Linked DNA regions of Homo sapiens: region 2 is linked to region 1. Evidence: fine-mapped expression QTL. A gene starts in region 1. The other region holds a variant in brackets. All regions are shown on one strand. Distances are between the middles of the regions.

Region 1 (2,903 bases):
GTCTTGCCAGGTTCTGGATGCCAGGGCCAGGATGAGGGAGGTGGGGGAGGACTGTGGGGTTCTGAGAAAGGGTCATCTGCATGAGTGAAGCCACTCAGGGGGAAAGCCCTCTCTCAGTCTGCCCACTTGGGGGGCTGCGTCACTCCAGGGTCTTCTGGTCCTCAGACCCGTGGGGCCAAGTGTAAGGGGGCAGTTGATGCTGGAATAATAGAAGCTTTGTTAGGTCTCAGCTGGGGACCCTCTGGGCTGGTTTTGAGGAATGGGGGCACTGCCTGAGAGTGGCTTGGAACCCCTTGGAGCTGCAGGATGAGGGGTTTGGAGGCTGAGAGCCTGGAGAGCTGGCTGCCCATCCACTGTCCTGGCCCAAGCCCTTCTGTGTTGAAGCATTCACCATTGAGTCGGGCGTCCCAGGTCCAGCTACCGCCCACCCGCCTGCCTGATGGAGCTGGTCCCTTGCTCACCCTCTCCCACTCCTCAGTTTCCTCCCCCTCCACCTCTTCCAACTTCTCAGGACTAATGGGGACACATGGGATTCTGTGTAGTCCATGCTAAGTTCCCCGAGCTGGTGGAGAAGTACATGAGTGAAGGAGGATGTCTGGGCGGTAGAAGGAGGGGGAGACAGCCATGCAGAGTAGGCTGGTGAGTCAAGCATTAAGAGCTTTTCCCTCCAAGACTTGAAAAGAAAGGGAGAGGAGCAGCCCACAGCTTCAAAGGCTGTCGCGGAGGAAGGTCTAACATTTTCCTTTCCCTCGGAGGCCTTTGCCTCGCTCTGTTTCGGGGTCTGGCGACCACCACACCCTCACCCTACTTGCTCCCTCAGTCAAGCCCAGCCTTGCAGCCCAGGTCCTTACATAGACGTGAAGACCCAAAGGGCTCCTCAGAGGGGAAGGGCTGGGAGGCTGCTCTCAGACTCCAGGGGCCAGAGTGTCCTTCCTACTTGTGCTCAGCTTGGCAGTTGGTTCCTGTCATCCCTCCTCTCGGTACCCCTGGTGACTGCCCTCTTGCAGGGATGACCCCAGCCCAGTGGGGTGGGCTGGGCTGGGTGGGGCTTACCAGTGGGTGAGCAAAGCCGGCTGGGCAGGGCTGCAGGTGTGTCTGGGGAGCGGGCAGCCGAAAGGTGTTCCTGAGGTGTGTGAAAGGGCTCTGCTCAAATAATCCAGGGAGGCGTTTATAAATAACTTTTCCTCAGGGCCACGGGGTGAGCCCCGGCTTCTGATTGGCTCAGAGGGGAAGTGGTTTTGAACACTACACCATAGCTAAGCCTGAGGAGATAGGAAAAGGAGATAAGGGGGAAAAGGTCCCAAATGAACAGCCCTTTTTTTGTTTTACCTGGGGAGCAGGGCTGTGTGATGGGAGCTTGGCACTTCCTAAATCCACCCCGAAGACAATAGGTCACATTCAGCGGGGCTCCTGCCCCACCGGCTCCCCCAAGGCGGCCCTGGAGGAGGGGGACGAGGCAGAGGAGGGGGACAAGGCAGGACAAGCTCCTCTGAGCTTGCTGTCCTGCTGCTTATGGGGCTGGGGGTCAGGCCAAAGAGCCTCTTGGACAATGGGAGCTATTGAGGCCACCTGAGGGGTGTGCTCTTGGGGATGCTTGCTTTGAAGATTGGAGATCTAGGGGGTGGGAAGACAGTAGTCCTCTGAACACCCCTGAGGAAGGGGAAGAACCATGTCTGGGAGGCCCTGGGAGCCTTTAGGCGGTTTTGGTTTGTGGTGGAGACCTGGTTCCCAGTTCTGTCCCCAATGTTAAGTTGCTTGTGAGCTCTGTGCCTTGGTCTATCCATCAGTGCAATGGGGGAAATTATTCCTGGCCCCTCAGGTAGTGTGCAAAGAGAACACAGGGGTTTAGAATCTGATAAAAGAGCTCAAGAAACTGGACTTAGAACAATTATATGAGAGGCGACCTGAAGGCTAGCAAATCTCCAGTCACAGCCCTCTGCCGCTTCTAGGAATTAATGTCTCCCTGGGTCATGGCACTGCTCCGGCTGCTGCCAGCAGAGCTGCCCATCCCAGGCCCATTGAGTGCTACGGAAGGACCTCAGAAAGCAATTGTGGACAGGGGCTGGGAGGGTGGGTAGGGGAGTTTCTTAATTTACTTCCTGGGAGGGAGAGTCACTACCCGACACCAGGTGCCCATTCTTTGAGACATCAAGTGCTGCACTGTCCTCGTCCTCAACTGTCCTCCCATCTCTCCAAAAGAAACCAGAGGCTCTGAAGTGGGCTGGAATCAGTGCAGGGGGCTTCAGTAAGGCACCTCTGGAAGTTGGGGCGAAAGTTCCCCATGGTGAAATGAGCTAGCTTCAGTACTTAATAGGGACTCAATAAATATTTGTTAAATGAATGAAAGAGTGAATTGTCTGCAAGCCCAACCCAAGGGATAGTTTGTAGATGCATTGCTTGTGGGGACTAGGGAAACACCCGAGGTCACTCAGAGTTGTCAGGGTGTAGCCAGACAACTGGCTGAAGAGAGCCAGAATTCAAGTGACCCAAGTGTGCCCTGACACCTGGCTGAGGGAAGGATGTGTGCATGGACACTGCCTCGGGGAGCCCTTCCCCAGACCCCTATGTGGACTTAGCTGACATGTTGCACATTCGTTCCTCTGGCTTCCTCTGCTTCACTCTCATAACACTGACCACAATTAATGGTAATTATGTATGGAATTGTCAGTCTTTCTGCAAACACCGTGAACTCCCTGAGGAGGGCAAGGGGGCAGTGCCTCTTTTGTATCCCTACCCACCTAGCCCAGTGCCCGGCACTTAGGAGGAGCTCAATATAGATTTGAGGAATGAATGAACAATTGTATGATAGAGTCTTTAAACAAAGCAAAGCCAGAGGGCGAGAATTTGTCCATGCATCTTCAGTATTGTCCAGTGTCATGGGTAGCCTGACCTGTTCTAAACTT
Region 2 (2,903 bases), 26 kb before region 1:
TTTAGGTTTTGTTTTGTTTGTTTTTGAGACAGTCTAGCTCTGTCACCCAAGCTGGAGTGCAGTGGCACGATCTCGGCTCACTGCAACATCTGCCTCCCAGGTTCAAGTGATTCTCATGCCTCAGACTTCCGAGTAGCTGGGACTACAGGCATGCACCACTACGCCTGGCTAATTTTTGTGCTTTTAGTAGAGACGGGGTTTCGCCATGTTGGCCAGGCTGGTCTCAAACTCCTGACCTCAGGTGGTCCGCCCACCTCAGCCTCCCAAAGTGCTGGGATTACAGGTGTGAACCATTGCACCCAGCCACATATTTTTTAGTTCTTAAGGCTTGTCCACATGCAATAATAATTCATTTGTAGACCCAGAATCCATCTATTCTACCATAACGTAAGTTTCTAAAAGGCAGAGGCCTTTGTTTTGCTCACTGCTATGTGCCCATCCTGAACTGTGTCAGGCAAACAGTAGGTACGCCATAAATACCTGCTGAATTAATGAAAGAACAAGTGACTGCCCTGCCAATCTTGTGTGGTGGATGGGACAGGTATTACCTATGTTTCCCCTAATTTCACAGATGATAAAAACTAGGGCCCAGGGTGTATGTGGCTTGCTCAGGGTCACGTGGGTGATGTGTTGGAGAATAAGAATAGATACTGGTTCTCTAGGACTTGGTCCAGTGACTCACCCTCTCCCCACGATAACTTTCAGGGAGTGAGAAGAATGAAAACAAAGGCCAGGCATCGTGGCTTATGCCTGTAATCCAGGCACTTAGGAGACCGAGGCAGGCAGATTGCTTGAGATCGGAAGTTCGAGACCAGCCCAGCCAACATGGTGAAAAGCTGTCTCTACTAAAAATACAAAAATTAGCTGGGCGCAGGCCTGAAGTCCCAGCTACTCGGGAGGCTGAGGCAGGAGAACCTCTGGAACCCGGGAGGCAGAGGTTGCAGTGAGCTGAGATCATGCCACTGCATTCCAGTCTGGGTGATAGAGTGAGACTTTGTCTCAAATTAAAAAAAAAAAAAAAAGAAAAGGAAAAGAAAAAAAACAAAGATGACCACAAATCTTTGTGGCCTTGAATGTGACTGCTCTGGGCTGGAGGTGAGACAGCTGAGTGAACGCCTTGTATTTGACAGCGACCCCATCCTTCCCCTCTTCGCCCTGCTCCCACCCTCACAGCCCCTTCCCTCAGCTCACCTGCTCTAAGTCCCAGTAGCTGCGAATGTCCTCCTCTGAGTCGTACAAGGAGAGCTCAGCATCCCCTGGAGCCTGGAAGGGAGGAAGCCAGTGCAGAATGAGCTTCAGTGACTGAACAGCAAAGTTGGTGCATGGTGGCAGGAAAAGGGACAGGTGGCCGGCTCTGGTTGGACGCTGCTTCCTGACACATGACTTATCCTCTTGCCCCTTCCCTTACCTGCCTCACAAAAACAGCACGGCTGTGGTCTTCCCCCTTATACCAGACAGGTGTGTATCGCGGTCTTCCCTCCTTTGTGGGCCGTTAGAGGCAGGGAAGGTTTTACTCAGCTTAGAAAAACTATTGGCTAGCTGCCTGACCTTGGGGAATTCCTGTCCTCCTGGGAATATATTTTCTAATCTGTT[C/A]AAGTCTGATAACCAGCCTCACTTTGCCTGCTTTGTCCCTCACAATGCTGTTGAAAAGGTGTGTGTTTATGTGTGTGATTTGTATCTGTGAATGGTCTATAATATGTAAGTATATATTATATAAAATATAAATTATTTATAAGTCTATGACTAATCAAGTATACATACCAACTAGAGTAGCTGAACATGATTAGGGCACTAACAACTAATGCAGCTTCCTCCAGAATCTCCCTCTTTGCTCTGCGGACAAATTCACGAAGCAGGAAAGCCCGTTGTTTCCCCAGGGTTTCCCTCTAGGCATGGAGGGCAGGAGCCAGCGCCCTGTGTGTTCCTGGGCAGTCTTTCAGCACTTAGAACAGATGGTTTCACCTTCATCAGTCTCTTAAGGCAAAGAGCAAATCATTGCTCTAGGGCCAGAAAAGCCTTTCTTATGACCCACAGAGGGCAGGGGAGGTTTTTACCCAGGGCTGGGGCACAACAAGAGTCTTGGGAGGCCAAGGGCAGGAGCTGAGCTGGGAGGGGACCCTGAGGGCTAGAGATGACTGGGGATCTGGGCAGGGACCCCAAGGAGGTAGGCTTTTTCTGACTCCCCAGTCTTCTGGAGTTTTAGATGGTGTTATTTGTATCCCATTTGTAACTTACTGAGCTAGTAAATTAAATGTCAAAAAGCTGAGACAAAACTCAGACCCAATCTCTTTATCCCTCACCAGCCTGAAATCTCTAAGCTCCGGTAAGTTAAAATGGGTAGGCTTACTCCCCTCCCCTCCCTTCCCGAAAGCCCCCTTTAGAAAGAGATGAGGAGGAGGCAGGGAACGATGCCAGCAGAGTGGGCCTGCTCTACTATGCTTTGGGTGTTTGTGCAACCAGAAAACTTATATTGATAAAGAATTTTTACAATACACAAAGTGCTTTCAAGTGACACAAAAGATGTAATTATCATTTAACCCTAAAACAAAATAAAAGAAAAATGCAGAGAGGTAGGTAATGTTAGTTGATGGTGCTCATTCTATAGATAAGGAAACAGATTCAGAAAACTGAAATGGCAGACTTGATATTGGAACTTAAACCTTCTCCTGTGTTCTTTCTAATAATGCCTCTTGGTCCTGCTATTTCAGTGCCTTGGAGCCTAGGATTCCCCAGGTGCAAGAACCTTACCCCTTGGAAGTTGTGTCCTGGGGTCACGTCTCTAGCATTTGCCTGGGCAAAGAGGACTGCGTCATGTATGCTGGGAAAGACGTGCTTGCATTCTAGACTCCCATCCTCAAAGACGCCTCCATGGCTAATGTCATTGTACACCTGGGCTAGAAGGA

Which allele goes with the higher level. Positions count from the first base shown, and alleles are read on the strand shown. Sizes are in standard deviations (SD) of each study's normalised expression.
For the expression in esophagus mucosa of the gene that starts at base 1,145 in region 1, allele A in region 2 goes with a lower level than allele C (small effect, 0.26 SD a copy in GTEx).

The links.
Region 2: its variant is fine-mapped to the expression of SLC26A9 in esophagus mucosa (GTEx, PIP above 0.99).

What each region holds. Positions count from the first base shown.
Region 1 is chr1:205,942,312-205,945,214 of GRCh38, forward strand. SLC26A9 (solute carrier family 26 member 9) reads right to left here and starts at 1,145. Exons shown (of 21, transcript NM_052934.4): 1 at 1,054-1,145. All of the region lies in intron 2 of SLC26A9-AS1 (SLC26A9 and RAB7B antisense RNA 1), which reads left to right.
Region 2 is chr1:205,916,092-205,918,994 of GRCh38, forward strand. It overlaps SLC26A9 (solute carrier family 26 member 9), which reads right to left. Exons shown (of 21, transcript NM_052934.4): 19 at 2,749-2,894; 20 at 1,192-1,263. Among named protein-coding and RNA genes, the nearest start is that of SLC26A9-AS1, 17 kb to the right of the region's middle. The variant C/A (reference allele first, on the strand shown) is at 1,594.